2 separate regions of the Homo sapiens genome follow, and region 2 is linked to region 1. Evidence: fine-mapped expression QTL. Tissue or cell type: whole blood. Region 1 holds a variant in brackets; the other region holds the start of a gene. All regions are shown on one strand. Distances are between the middles of the regions.

What was found. PIP is the estimated chance that this variant, and not a neighbour inherited with it, causes the effect.
Region 2: it holds the start of ACBD4, and the variant in region 1 is fine-mapped to the expression of ACBD4 in whole blood (INTERVAL, PIP 0.90).

Annotation. Positions count from the first base shown.
Region 1 is chr17:45,009,773-45,018,054 of GRCh38, reverse strand. LOC107987243 (a long non-coding RNA gene) reads left to right here and starts at 4,054. Exons shown (of 6, transcript XR_007065771.1): 1 at 4,054-4,568. RefSeq lists an enhancer at 4,645-5,431. The variant A/TATATATA (reference allele first, on the strand shown) is at 3,731.
Region 2 is chr17:45,132,996-45,139,775 of GRCh38, reverse strand. It overlaps ACBD4 (acyl-CoA binding domain containing 4), which reads right to left and starts at 4,089. Exons shown (of 10, transcript NM_001135705.3): 1 at 3,823-4,089; 2 at 3,544-3,668; 3 at 3,156-3,276; 4 at 3,000-3,084; 5 at 2,637-2,757; 6 at 2,322-2,408; 7 at 1,946-2,016; 8 at 1,788-1,863; 9 at 616-755. The coding sequence starts at 3,631. RefSeq lists an enhancer at 6,468-6,537.

The sequences.
Region 1 (8,282 bases):
CCTGAGGGAACTGGAGTCAAATGCCTAGCCTGGCATTTTTAACTGTCTGCTCTGCCAGAGTGACAGGGCCTCTGGGTGGGAGGAGAGGTTAGGGGAAGACTGTGAGCCTCAGGCTTAGTGCTTTGAGAGCCCTTTTTAAAGAATGAGGCTCCTCCTCTGCCAGCACTACCCCCCAGCTGTCCCGCCCCCAGGGTCTCAGTGCAAGAGTCAGCCCCACCTGGAGGAAAGTTATTTTCCCATCAAATCCTGAATCCAGGTGGAAAGGCAAGGTTGATATGGAATCCAGAGCCTCAGTTCCCTGCCAATGGGAAGCAAACTCACTCCTTGATTTTCCCATCTGTGAAATGGGACCACAGCCAGTAATTATGAGGTGCTATTTGAACTGGTGGGTAATCTCTTTTATTATTATTTATTTATTTATGTATTTATTTTGAGGCAGAGTCTTGCCCTGTCACCAGGCTGGAGTGCAGTGGTGCGATCTCGGCTCACTGCAACCTCTGCCTCCTGGGTTCAAGCGATTCCCCTGCCTCAGCCTCCAGAATAGCTGGGACTACAGGTGTGCGCCACCACGCCCGGCTAATTTTTTGTATTTTAGTAGAAACGGGGTTTCACCATGTTGGCCAAGATAGTCTTGATCTCCTGACCTCGTGATCTGCCCGCCTTGACCTCCCAAAATGCTGGGATTACAGGTGTGAGCCACTGTGCCCGGCCTTTTATTATTTTTTTAATTTTTTTAGAGACAGGGTTTCACTCTAGCCCAAATGAGAGTGCAGCAGAGCCATCATAGCTCACTGTAACCTTGAACTTCTAGGCCCAGGTGACTCTCCCGAATAGCTAGGATTACAGATGTGCACCACCATGCGTGGCTAATTTTTTTCTTTTTTTTTTTTTTTTAGAGACAGGGTCTTACCATGTTGCCCAGGCTGGTTTCAAACTCCTGGCCTCAAGTGATGCTCCCGCCTCGACCTCCCAAAATGCTGGGATTGCAGGCATGAGTCACCACACCCAGCCTGGGGTGACCTCTAGAGGCTGCTGAATCCATTGCCCTGCCTTCTACACTCACTCTTACCCACTCCACCCCTACCTGCAATAGGATTATCTCTGCTGGCGAAACAACCAGCCTCTTTGGAGATGGCAGCCCACCATTTGTCAAGCCAGGAAGACCTTCTGACAGTCTACCTTAAATCTCTCTTTGGTACCCTCAGGGAAAATTGAAACAACGAACAGCAAAAAGATAAATGCATATGGATAGGCAATGCCACACTATTTTTTTAAAATACCCGCAAAGAGGGTGGGAGAGCGGGAATTACCTTCAGACACAATGCTCTTTACACTAAACATCTTGGCGAAAAATATGGCTGTGTAATTCTTTTTTCTCCTTGGCAAAGAGAAAGGCTGAGGCTGGGCAGAAAGGCAGAGGGACCCGAAAATATAAATCAATATGTGACTTTAATATATGTGCTTTCGGTGTCTGTGTGTGCTGGGGGATTATTAGTAACCTTGATTCCAGCTCAGTGTCCATGCGAGGCAGGGAGATGTGCGGCCCCCAGGGAGGAGAAGAGAAATTAGGAAGCCAAATTCTTCTCCTGATTGACACCTGGGTAAACATTATCCTGGCAGAAAGGGAAGAAAAAAAGATCAATGCTGGGTATTTTTATCACGTTCCAGGGACAGACGGGGGGGAAATTAAAGAAACAGTCCCCTAGAATCACTGAATATGCCCATCTTCAAGGAGTAGCTAGATAAGGCGGAACCCAGGTGGAGGAGTATGGGTGGGAGAGAAATGGGCATGTCCCAGGGAGCAGTGGCCATTGCTTCTTCTACCCTGATGTATGTGAGTGGCAGCAGGTACAAAGGAGCCATGGCTTTAGTTGCAGGGTGAAGGCAGCAGCTTTGACGGGGAATCGTAGGCCAGAGTCTAACTCAAATCAGACTTCGGCTTCAACAGAGGCCCAAGAGGCATTTGTCTTAATGGGATTTGTCAGGGGGCTGTTTCTAGTGGAAGATTCCTGGAGTGTGGGAAGGGGGCAGTGGCTGCAGGAGGGGCTGGGTGTAGTGAGTGATCCAGTGTGGGTCAATGCCCATGGGGAAGCAGGGACATCTCTCTGGATTGTCTCAGATCTAGAGTCAGGAAAACCTGGGCCTCCACCCCTTCCTGGCTATATGACCTTGACCAAGTCATCTGACCTCATAGAGTCTCACCTTCCCTGTCTGTAAAATAGAGGCAGGTGGCCCCTACCCCACTGGTCTCAGAGTTTTTAAAAGAGATTATACAAAACACTGGACAGGGCTGAGGGGCTATTGTTATCTGGGGAGCCCTGCCCACTAGAAATATACTGTAAGCCACATATACACTTAAAAAAATTTTTTTAAACTAATTTGTTTAAGAGACAAGGTCTCCGTCTGTGGCCCAGGCTGCAGTGCAGCGGCACAATCATAGCTTATTACAGCCTCAACCTCCTGGGCTCGAACAATCCTCTCACCTTAGCCTCCTGAGCACCTGGCTAGTTTTGGGGGATTTTTTGCTTGTTTATTTGTTTGTATTTTTTGTAGAGATGGGGCTCTCACTATGTTGCCCGGACTGGTTTCAAATTCCTGGCCTCAAGTGATCCTCCCACCTCAGTCTCCCAAAGTGTTGAGATTACAGGAATGAGCCCCTGCACCCAGCCCATATATGTACTGTTAAATGTTCTGTTGTTGTTGTTGTTGTTGTTGTTGTTGTTGTTGACGACGGAGTTTCGCTCTTGTTGCCCAGGCTGGAGTGCAATGGCGCAATCTCCACTCACCGCACCTCTGCCTCCTGGGTTCAAGTAATTCTCCTTCCTCAACCTCCCGAGTAGCTGGGATTACAGGCATACGCCACCATGCCCGGCTAATTTTGTATTTTTCATAGAGATGGGGTTTCTCCATATTGGTCAGGCTGGTCTCGAACTCCCAACCTCAGGTGATCCACCCACCTTGGCCTCCCAAAATGCTGGGATTACAGGCATGAGCCACCATGCCAGGCCAATGTACTGTTTTTGGTTTTTTTTTTTGAGACGGAGTCTCGCTCTGTCGCCAGGCTGGAGTGCAGTGGTGTGATCTCGGCTCACTGCAACCTCTGCCTCCTGGGTTCAAGCAATTCTCCTGCCTCAGCCTTCTGAGTAGCTGGGACTACAGGCGAGCACTGCCACGCCCTGCTTATTTTTGTACTTTTAGTAGAGACGGGGTTTCACCATGTTGGCCAGAATGGTCTCCATCTCTTGACCTCATGATCCGCCTGCCTCGGCCTCCCAAAGTGCTGGGATTACAGGCGTGAAGCACCGCACCCGGCCAATGTACTGTTAAATGTTCTAATAGTCACATTTAAAAAAGTAAAAACAGGCCAGGCACGGTGTTCACGCCTGTAATCCCAACACTTTGGGAGGCTGAGGCAGGAGGATCAGTTCAAGACCAGCCTGGGCAACATAGGGATATGTCACGTCTACAAAAAAAGTAGCCAGGAGTGGTGGCGCATACCGTAGTCTCAGCTACATGAGAGGCTGAGCTGAGAGGATCACTTGAGCCTAGGAGGTCGAAGCTGCAGTGAGCTGTGATTGCACTGCTGCACTCTAGGCAACAGAGTGAGACCCTGTCTAAAAAAAAAAAAAAAAAATGTGAAAAGAAACACTTCAAATTAATTCAAATTAAATATGTATTATATTATATATAATATATATAGTATATATTATATATATTATATATTATATAT[A/TATATATA]GTATATAATATATATAATATTATATATATTATATATATATATTATATATATTTTTTGAGACAGTTTCATTCTTGTTGTCCAGGCTGGAGTGCAATGGTGCAGTTTCGGCTCACTGGAACCTCCACCTCCCAGGTTCAAGTGATTCTCCTTCCTCAGCTTCCCGAGTAGCTGGGATTACAGGCATGCACCACCACGCCTGGCTAATTTTCTATTTTTAGTAGAGATGGGGTTTCTTCATGTTGGTCAGGCTGGTCTCAAACTCCTGACCTCAGGTGATCTGCCCACCTCGGCCTCCCAAAATGCTGAGATTACAGGTGTGAGCCACTGCGCCCGGCCTCAAATAATATTTTTTAACTTAACCCAATATATCTAAAATATCATTTCAGCATGTGGCACTAGCCACATTCCAGGTGCCCTGAAGCCACATGTGGCAGGAGCTACCGCACCGGGCCAGCAGAGATCTGGAATGAGAAGCCCACAGGATAGGAGCTTCTGCCCCGACCCCTGCCCCCTCCCTGTGATAGTGAGGAGGGACCTCTGGAGGCAGAAGGTGAAGTGAGCCCCTGAGAAATACAGGGCAGAGCCCCCCTTTTGCTGGGGGTGGGAGCAACTTTCTGGCCTCTGAGGCATTACAGTGCCCCAGCAGGGGCTCTCTGGGGGAGGCAGACTAATGACCACTTCGCCAGGATAGGGGCCGGGCTGGGGCAGACACTGAGCTCTCCTTTCCAGAGTCTCCTGGCAACTAGAGCAGCTGGTTTGGAGGGAAGAGCCTGACAGCTGGGCTTGGGTACTTCTCATTCCCAGTCAGTGCCTAGTCTTCTGGCTGTAGCATCTAAGGTAAGGCCCCTCTTGGAACTGCACCATCACTCAAATGGGAATAGCTGTGATCAACCCTGCTTTAAAGGCTGTAAAAAGGTTTCTTATACAAAGACAGTATGCTTGTAAGCCATGAACGTGCGCGAGGAAAAGAGAAAGTGAGGAGGGAGGGAGGGAGCCCCTTTTGAGGCCGCCCCTCCCTTGGTTGGCTATTGCTGGCTGTACTCCCAGAGTCTGCAGGGGCCCTCCAACTTCAGTGGGAGGCTGGAGAAAGAGGGTAGGATGGGCGGCCCAGAAAGGGTGTGATTTTCTGAGAGCCACACAGCACATCCAGCAGTGGGTGAGCTGGACACGCTGGGGTGGGGCCAGGATACCCAGGACCTCCTTCTCAGCTGCTCTAGGCGCGAGGGTTTGTGGGAAGGAGTGGACAGGGCTATTTCAGGGCAATGCAAAGGCAGCCGAGTGCTGGCTGGGAGGCCCTCGTGGGTCTAGTCTGACATTTTCTGCTGATGCTGGGAGCCAGGGAAGGGGACCTGGAAACCTGAATCTCACACCTGGGCCAGCTGATCTTGTGCCCAAGTGGTCCCAGCCCCTACTTCCCACTGGTCTTCCCTGTCCTAGCTGCACAATTGCCCTGCCTGGGGAGGAGTGTGGAGAGAAGCACCAGGCTACCCCAGGACCAAGCCCCCAGCCCACCTGCCAGGTCCCGAGAGCCACAGTGAGCCCTCAGTTATATCTTTGTTTTTGTTTTTGTTTTTGAGTTTCACTCTTTCCAGGCTGGAGTGAAGTGGCGCAATCTTGGCTCACTGCAACCTCCGCCCCCAGAATTCAACGATTCTCCTGCCTCAGCCTCCGGAGAAGCTGGATTATAGTCAAACCACCATACCCGCTAATTTTTGTATTTTTAGTAGAGACGGGGTTTTGCCATGTTGGCCAGGCTGGTCTTGAACTCCTGACCTCAGGTGATCAACCTGCCTCAGCCTCCCAAAGTGCTAGGATTACACTTTGAGGTGCCCAGCCCCTCAGTTATTTCTTTTGCAGACTGCAACTAAGGGATAGATCTGGGATTTAACTTTATTTATTTATTTATTTATTTATTTATTTATTTATTTATTTTTAGACAGGATCTCCCTCAGTCACCCAGGCTGGAGTGCAGTGGCACAAACATGGCTCATGGCAGCCTCAACATCCTGGGCTCAAGAGATCCTTCCACCTCAGCCTCCCAAGTAGCTGGGACCCTAGGCACGCAACACCACATCTAGCTAATTTTTTGTATTTTTGGTAGAGACCAGATTTTGCCACGTTACCCAGGCTGGTCTCAAACTCCTGGGCTCAAATGATCTGCCTGCATCAGCCTCCCAAAGTGCTGGGATTATAGGTGTGAGCCACCTGGCCCAGCCTCTTCTTTTACTTATTTATGTATTTATTTTTACACAGGGTCTTGCTCTGTCACCCAGGATGGAGTACAGTGGCATGGTCATAGCTCACTGCAGTCTACAACTGCTGGACTCAAGTGATCCTCCCTCCTCAGCCTTGCAAGTAACTAGGACTACAGGTGCATGCACCTGTAGTGCATTAGCACAGCGAGCTAATTTTTTTTCTTTTTTTGTGCAGATGGGGCTTCTCAATGTTGCCCAGGCTGACCTTGGACTCCTGGCCTCAAGTAATTCTCCCACCTCTGCCTCCCAAAGTGTTGTGATGACAGGTGTGAGCCACTGCACTTGGCCTTTCTTTTTTTTTGAAACGGAGTTTTGCTCTTGTTGCCCAGGCTAGAGTGCAATGGCACAATCTCGGCTCACTGCAACCTCCCCCCTCCCAGGTTCAAGCGATCCTCCTGCCTCAGCCTCCTGAGTAGCTGGGATTACAGGCATGCACCACCATGCTTGCCTACTTTTGTATTTTTTAGTAGAGACAGGGTTTCTCCATGTTGGTCAGGCTGGTCTCGAACTCCCAACCTCAAGTGATCCGCCCGCCTTGGCCTCCCAAAATGCTGGGATTACAGGCATGAGCCACCGCGCCCGGCCTTTCTTTCTTTCTTCTTCTTCTTCTTCTTTTTTTTTTTTTTTTTTTTTGAGATAGAGTCTTACTCTGTTGCCCAGGCCAGAGTGCAGTGGCATAATCTTGGCTCACCACAACCTCCACCTCCCAGGTTCAAGCGATTCTCCTGCCTCGGCCTCCCGGGTAGCTGGGACTACAGGCATGTGCCACCATGCCCAGCTAATTTTTGTATTTTTAGTAGAGACAGGGTTTCGCTATGTTGGCCAGGCTGGTCTTGAACTCCTGACCTCGTGATCTGCCTGCCTCAGCCTCCCAAAGTGCTGGGATGACAGGTGTGAGTCACCACACCTGCCATTTCTTTCTTCTTGTTTCAGGTTTCTTCCTTCTTGGTTCCATCCTACAAAGAACTGTTTCCATAGACATCCTCTCTGTACAGCTACTTTCAGCCTATTCTTCCCAGTTAGAGACTTACAGTGATTCCTAGTGTCTACCAAATTCCCTTTCAAACTCCTTGGTTTGGGATTCCAAGAGCCCTTCACCATCAAGCTCTTTCCACCTGACACAAACAGTAACCTTGTTTCCGGCCCAACTTGCTGTGCCAACTGGCCCTGCCTAAGGCTGTCCAGCCTCTCTGCCTTTGCCTGGGCCGCTTCTCCTCCTGCAACATCCTTCTTCCTCTCCACACCCAATTCTGCTGATTGAAATCCATCCATTCTGAAAGACCTGGCTCAAATGCCACCTCTTCTGGGAGGAATCCTTACCAGGTAGCCTCATCAGAAATGCTTGCCCTCCTCTGATCCATCTCCCGTAGCCCCTTGCATGTCCCAGGCCCTGGATCTTTCTCTCTCACAGCCTCAGACTCCCGGTAAGCCTCTGGAAATGGAAGCCCCTGGAGGGCAGAGCTATCCCAGCTGTCCATGAGTCCTCTCGGAACCCATTTCCCACCATTGCACTTCCTGCCCTGCTCGCTCCCCACCCCAAGGTAACACCAAGGTCGGATGTGAGAAAAAAATAGATGAAACAAGATTTTGCACATCACATTGTAAAACCCGCTCAGGCGCTCCCCTCCTCCCAATATTCTTACTGGACTCCCGCCTACCCTTGGCTCTGGTCCCTCTGGCTCCTCCCCATCCACCCAGTCCAGATGTCCAAGCCTGAGCAGCTCACCTGGAGAGACACCGTGTCTCTGTCTCCATCTCTTAGTCTGGGTCTCTGTCTGTGCTGCCAGTAGACCTCTGGCCTCCCCCATCAGACTGGGATCACTGGGAATGTGAGGACCTACCTTTTTTTGTCTTTGTCTCCTTTTCCCATCCCATTCAGTGGAGGATTTCAAAAAGCTTTGGAGACACACTTAACAAGATAAAAAATGAGAGAGGAAGCTGGAGGTGGGAGAGGTCCTGCTTCCTCCTCCCCCAGCCTCGGTCTCTGGCACCTTGCCAAGGTCACCTTTCAGAGCAACCTATCACGGGCCTTTGTCAGGATCATTCATCCTCCTTTCCAGCGCCCTCCGCCCTTGCCAACCCACCAGACTCTGTTGCCACTCCAGGCCCTGCCGCCACTCCAGGCCCTGCCAGCCCCAGCTCGCCTTACCAGTCCCTCACGCTCCAACTCTCTCCCTCTCCCCCCCATCTGCAACCACAGCACATCACAGCTGTCTGATTAGCTCAATTGATTAATTAAGCTCTAATGAGAGCCGTGACTCACCCCTACAGCTGCTGACCAGGAGGCCAGCCGTGC
Region 2 (6,780 bases), 120 kb before region 1:
GCTGTGTGCCCTCAGGCAAATTAGCCCCTTGGAGCTTTAGTTTCCCTCTCTAAAAGGGAGGTGAAAAGAAACTCTATCTCATAGGGCTGTTGTGTGGATTCAGTGGGAAGATGCCCATGAGTGTTTCGCACCCAGCGGGGCTCCAGCAATGGCAGCTGTTATTTAGTTTGCAGGAGCCCAGGATCCCAAGTGTCAGAGGCAAGCAGAGCTAGGAGTTGAGGAGAGGGATGCAAGGGCTGAACCATTTGGGGCAAATCCTAATTCTGGGAATGGAAGTCCTGACTGAGGGGCAATAGGGACCCGCATCCTCAATGCCCAGAGCAGACACATCATGGCCCTTCCCACACGGGATTAGTCCTGAGGCTTAGCTTCTCTCCAGGCAGAGGGAGGGGAGAACGGCAAAGGGCCCCACCCACTGTGCCTTCAGAGTAGAAGCATGTCAGCCCCCTCCACCCTCACCCCCACCTCCTGCCTGTAGCAGGAGCCATGCCATTCTCTGGAGAGAGATGTGGGCAGGTGGAGGCGTGAGGACAAAAACAAAAGTGGCTGGAAGAGGAGCCCAGAATAAAGACCGGATTCTGCCATCATCTTGTCCTATGGGGTGGGGGACTCTACCTGCTCAGGGGGCCGGGGCATGCTCTCCAGGCTCTGCACCCTCGCCTGCACCTCCTGCATGCTCTCCTGTAGTGCTCGAACTGTCCCCAGCAGCCACACGTCCAACTCCTGGGGCCCCGGCGGGCTGCCCCGCAACCCCTCTGCGGAGCACAGACACACAGGGAAGGGGGCTCAGGAGGCAATTCAGCTCTGGGCAGGGTGGGGGCAGGCTGGGGCAAGCCCAGGAAAGTGTAGGAGTGGAACCCAGTCGCTGTACCAAGTGTGATTCTTGCAAAGTCCATCTATGTAGCTGAGTAATGGGCTGCTATGGGTTTAATCCCAGCATGGCCGCTTATGACACAGATCAAGTCATTACCTTTTTTTTTTTTTTTTTAGACAGTCTTGCTCTGTTGCCCAGGCTGGAGTGCAGTGGCACAATGACCTCGGCTCACTGCAACCTCCGCCTCCTGGATTCAAGCGATTCTCCTGCCTCAGCCTCCCGAATACCTGGGATTATAGGTGCCCACCACACCCGGCTAATATTTGTATTTTTAATACAGACAGGGTTTCACCATGTTGGCCAGGCTGGTCTCAAACTCCTGACCTCAGGTGATCTGCCTGCCTTGGCCTCCCAAAGTGCTGGGATTACAGGCGTGAGCCATCGTGCCCGGCCAAAGTCATTAACTTCTCTGGGCATCATTTTGTCATCTAAAAATTAGGAGAAGATGTCATTTCTCTCACAGGGCTGCTTGCTCAGAGGAAAAAAGGAGAAACTTTTCAAAATGTCCATACAGGACCTGACACACAACAGGAGTTCTAGAAGGGAAGAGGGCAGAACTCATTGTCTTCTGAGATTTCCAAACGGGGGAGTCCAGAGAATATGGATGACTTCCTGAGGCTGTGCAGCTGTAGGTGGGAGAACTGGGCTAGGACTCCCATCCCGCTGGCCTTACTCAGGACCTGCAGAGGGTGCAGACTCCTGGGTGCCCTTTGGGGAGAGGAGGGAGGGCGGGGACTTTGCCCATCCAGGCAGGTATCTGGCTGGTTGGCAGCCCTTCCTGGACAGAGGCTTCTCGCTCAGTGCCCAGCAATGGACTTTCAACTCTGCCCTAGGAAGGCAGCCAAGAGAAAGCCTGGGGTGCCAGGACCACGGGAAAGGGCAGAAGTGGGTGAGAGGTTGGGTAGGAGCTCACCTTTCTTTGTGGGGGGCACGGGGCTGTTCCTGGGATCACGCTTTCCTCCAGATGCTGCCCGCTGCTCTGTCCAAACCTGCTGAGATGAGTCAGAGAGCTGAGGGTGGGAGTGGGAGCACAGTGGGGTGGGAAAAGGGGGGAATGGGGACTGGGCTCACCAGCTCAGGCTCCAGCTGCTCCAGGGAATCACAGAAAACCTCGGAGTCCAGGTCCCTGGGTGAATGGGACTCTGTGGAGGGGTTGGTAGAGTTACTGCCCAGAGGGAAGCTGTGGAGGGAGAGCAGGAGTGTGCACTGGGCAGAAGCACCTGTTTAGGAGACACTAGAGATACGAGGCACTAGAGATATCAACACCTGAGGCACAGATGGGCGCCAGAAGCAAGGCCCTGGAACAGGAATCCTAGACCCCGGTCCCCACCTTTGGGAGCACAGGAAGTCTCAGTGTCTGTGGAGGGCACAGCGTGGCATCCAGCCTTCTCCCCTCCAGCCCTCCCCCAGCCTGAGTTTGGTCCACCCCTCCTGCTCAAGCACTAACCTGGGCTTGGGGGTGCCGGTTCCTTGGGGAGGCAGGGAGGCTCTGAAACAGCCCCAACATCTCCATTCACAACCTGCTCTTTCCAACCTGCCAAGACACAGCACCCAGAGGTGGGCCTGGGGAGAGGCTGGCACCTCCCAGTGTGATCAAGCCCCTACTCGTGATGAGCCGTGGATGCTGCCTGGGATCCACCTCTCGGGGGCTTGGGGGCCCTAACAGGGATGTCGCCTGGAGCCCTCTGCCCCCAGCCCACCTCAGCCTAGACCTAAGACGGTTCACTCAGCACTTTTGGAGCTCCCAGCCTGGGAGTCTGACCTGTGACCCTTCTCAGGAAGGTCTCTGGGGGCCTCGGCATGTCAGGGATCACCTGGTACAGGGGCTCGAAGTAACCAAACATGTCCTCTGCCACCTCACCCAGGGGCACTGTGTCGATCACCTGTAGGGGAGGGGGTCTGTTGGGGACGGAGTGGCCTCCTGTCCCTTCCTCCCTGCTCCTGCCCTGTCACACACCTCCACCCTGTGCCCAGTCAGGGGCCAAAGATAGGCAGGGTTGGGGGTAACATGAAGGTGGTGATTCCCATGAGGGGGTCCATGTGTAGGAAACGTAGTGGGGGTCAGAACTGGAAGGGTGAGGCCACCTGGCCAGGAGCCTGGGGACAGAGAACCTGCAGCCCTTACCTTCTGTGCCACCAGTTTCATTTCAGTGATGTAGGCAGACATGGCCTCCTCCCTGCTCATCTTGCCCAGACTGTTCCAGGCGTCCCTGGGGGCAGAGGGCTGTGAGAGGGCTGCTTGACAGCTGAGGCTTGTCTGCCCAGCCAGCAGGGAGCTCACCACTTATATCGTCCAATGGGGTCCCAGAACCCGGGCCGGGGGACCAGGCAGGGCCCCATGGTGGCCTGCTTGTAGTAACTGTAGAATCGCAGCATCTCTTCATAGGAGGGGCGGTAAGAACCTGGGCAGAGAGTTGGGAAGCCAGGGCAAAGCATCACTCCCAGCTCCAAGGGGCGGAGGGGCGGGAGAACCCTGCTTGGAAAGGGCAGAGGTGGTGATGGGTCCCACCCAGGGCATCTGGACTAGGATAGGAAGCGGAGGGAACCCCCAGGACAGCCCAGGCAGGGGCTTGTCTGCAAAAACTGCAGTGATCAGGACCATTCTTTCTTCAGAGTCAGACCCCAGGCGTCCTGAATGCGAGTCCAAATGCGAGTCCCCGCAGCCTCACCGTTCTTGGGCAGGTTCTGGATGACGCTCACTGCAGCCTGGAACTGTTTCTGGCAGTCGGGCTCTGGGCTTTCTTTCTCGGTGCCCATGCTGCTGCGAGCCCTGGGGCCCTACTTTTGAGCGACTCTGCAAGAAGCAGCCTTCGTGTGAGGGGGCCTCCAGGGTCCCCCCGGCACCATAAGCCAAGGATTCACTTCCCAGAGGGGCAAACTAAGCTCTTTAGAGGCCTCAGACACCCTGGGAGGTCAGAAGTTGTGGTTGAGGAGCCTCCTTTTCCTACCTCAAGGCAGTGTGGTGGGGTCAGGGTCGCCAGGTGGCGAGGCAGGTGGCGAGGGCCTCAGTGCCAGATGTGTCCGTCCCCAGATGCGCCTCCTTTAGGTGCACATCTCCAACTCCCGAACAGGTGGAGAAACAAGATAGGAGTACTCAGGGCGGGGCGAACAGTCTCCCACCCTGGCCGCCTGCACCTTGGCCCAGCGTGTGCCCCGCGGCGCCCACTGCCAGGACACCTGGGTCCTCTCTCGCCACCACCCCGCGGCTTCCTACTGACCCCGGGGTCCAGCAGGGCCGGGATGGCGACGCAGATCGAGGGGGGGAATTTAGGCCAATGAGAGAGCCTGTTTCACATTCGGCTTACCTACCTCAACCATTCAGCACAGCTCTTTCAAGATCATGCAAATAGTTTCTCAGAGCCTTTCCCAATCAGGCGGGGCTTAATCGAAGGGTCGGACTTCCCAGCCCGGGATGGCCAAGGCGGGCGGCAGCGCCCCCTGGTGCACATAGTGAAAGGTCGTGGCGTCCTAGCGCCCCCTGGTGGAAATCCGCATCTGTTCGCTGATATCCAGGCCTGGCCGATCCGAGGCAACCCACTCAGCTCTCTAGACACTTAGGCACTGGGGATTAAAAAAAGTCATGTCCTGTGGTCAGGTGTTCTAGAGGAAGGACATCACAGCTCAGTTTTGGAAGATGGTCGGGCACGGTGGCTCATGCCTGTAATCCCAGAACTTTGGGAGGCCAAGGCGGGCGGATCACCTGAGGTCAGGAGTTCGAGACCAGCCGGGCCAACATAGTGAAACCCCATCTCTACTAAAAATACACAAATTAGCCGGGCGTGGTGGCGCGCGCCTGTAATCCCAGCTACACGGGAGGCTGAGGCAGGAGAATCGCTTGAACCCGGGAGGTGGAGATTGCAGTGAGCCAAGATTGCCCCACTGCACTCCAGCCTGGGCGAGAGTGAGACTCCATCTCAAAAAAAAAAAAAGAGTAAGCAAAATGGACATCGCAGAATGATGGTTACCAGAGGCTGGGAAGGGTACTGGGGAGGGGGGGAAATGGGTACAAAAATACAGTTAGAATGAATGAGATCCAGTGTTCGGTAGCACAATACAACGATTATAGTTACCAATAATTTATTGTATCTTTTTATTTTGTTTATTTTATTTTATTTATTTATTTTTTTGAGACGGAGTCTCACTCTCTCCCGGGCTGGAGTGCAGTGGCGTGATCTCGGCTCACTGCAATCTCCGCCTCCCGGGTTCACGCCATTCTCCTGCCTCAGCCTCCCGAGCAACTGGGATTACAGGCGCTCGCCACCACGCCCAGCTAATTTTTTGTATTTTTTAGTAGAGACGGGGTTTCACCATATTAGCCAGGATGGTCTCGATCTCCTGACCTCGTGATCCGCCGACCTCGGCCTCCCAAAGTGTTGGGATTACAGGCGTGAGCCACCGCGCCCGGCCTATTGTATCTTTTTAAATTAATTATTTTAAAAACAATTTTTGTAGAGGCAGAAGTCTCATTATGTTGCCCAGGCTGGTCTTCATTCAATACCTGGCCTCAAGTGATCATCCCACCTCTGCCTCCCAAAGTGCTGGGATTACAGGCGTGAGCCACCGCATCCGGCCAATTTATTGTATATTTCAAAATAACTGGGCGGGAAGTGGTGGCTCAGGCCTGTAGTCCCAACACTTTGGGAGGCCAAGGCAAGAGAATTGCTTTGAGGCTGCAGTGAGCTATGATCATGCCACTGCACTCCACCCTGGGCAACCAAGTAGTGAGACCTTGTCTCTAATAAACAAATAAAATACAAATACAAATAACTAAAAGCGGAATTGGAATGTTCCTAATACAAAGGAATGATAAATGCTTGAGGTGATGGTTACTTCAATTACCTTGATTTGATCATTACACATTTTATACCTGTATCAAAACATTACATGCCTCTCCATAATTCTCTGCAACTATTAAGTGTCCATAACAATTAAAAGAAATGTAGACTTAGCCTATCCAACAACAAGAATAACAAAAGGGTAAACCAGGAGAATAAGGAAGGTTGTTTCTGGAGGAAGGAACGGCAGGATCAAAAGCACAAAGGCGAATACGATAATCAAGAAGAAAATTCAGGGCCGGGCGCGGTGGCTCACGCCTGTAATCCCAGCACTTTGGGAGGCCGAGGCGGGCGGATCACGAGGTCAGGAGATCGAGACCATCCCGGCTAAAACGGTGAAACCCCGTCTCTACTAAAAATACAAAAAATTAGCCGGGCGTAGTGGCGGGCGCCTGTAGTCCCAGCTACTTGGGAGGCTGAGGCAGGAGAATGGCGTGAACCCGGGAGGCGGAGCTTGCAGTGAGCCGAGATCCCGCCACTGCACTCCAGCCTGGGCGACGGAGCGAGACTCCGTCTCAAAAAAAAAAAAAAAAAAAAAAAAAAAAAGAAAATTCAGGACCCCAGAGTGGCGTAGGGACCCAAGCCAGTGTGCAGAATCTCTGGGCCTGGGAGATCTGAGGATGGGGTAGAGCAGGGCAAGTAGGTGGCAAATCAGGCCCTGAGCACTAGCCTCTCTGTAGGATGCCACGCCGCTGGCCGCCGCAAAGTGGCGGTGTGCGCCCATGTCTCTGCCGGACCCAGGCCACCGGCCGCAGAAACGCTGCCACCTGGACGTCCCCCACTTCGCGCACGCACTCTGGTGCTTGCATATAAATAGTAAGTGCACACCCGACTCGGCCACCAGAACCTGCACACGGATGCCCACCCACGGGTTGACGTCGCGGACAACTACACCGCGGGTGCCGGGCTGGGGTGCCGGCCTGTCCAAGCCTCGAACCCAGAACCAGTTGCTGGGGACTCCAGGCTCGGCTCCGCCTCACGCTCCCCAGGTCCGTCAGCTCCGAGACTGTGGCTCTCCGAGGGGGCAGCACCTGGCCTGGCACAGGGAGGTTAATCCTATGACGTCACTGC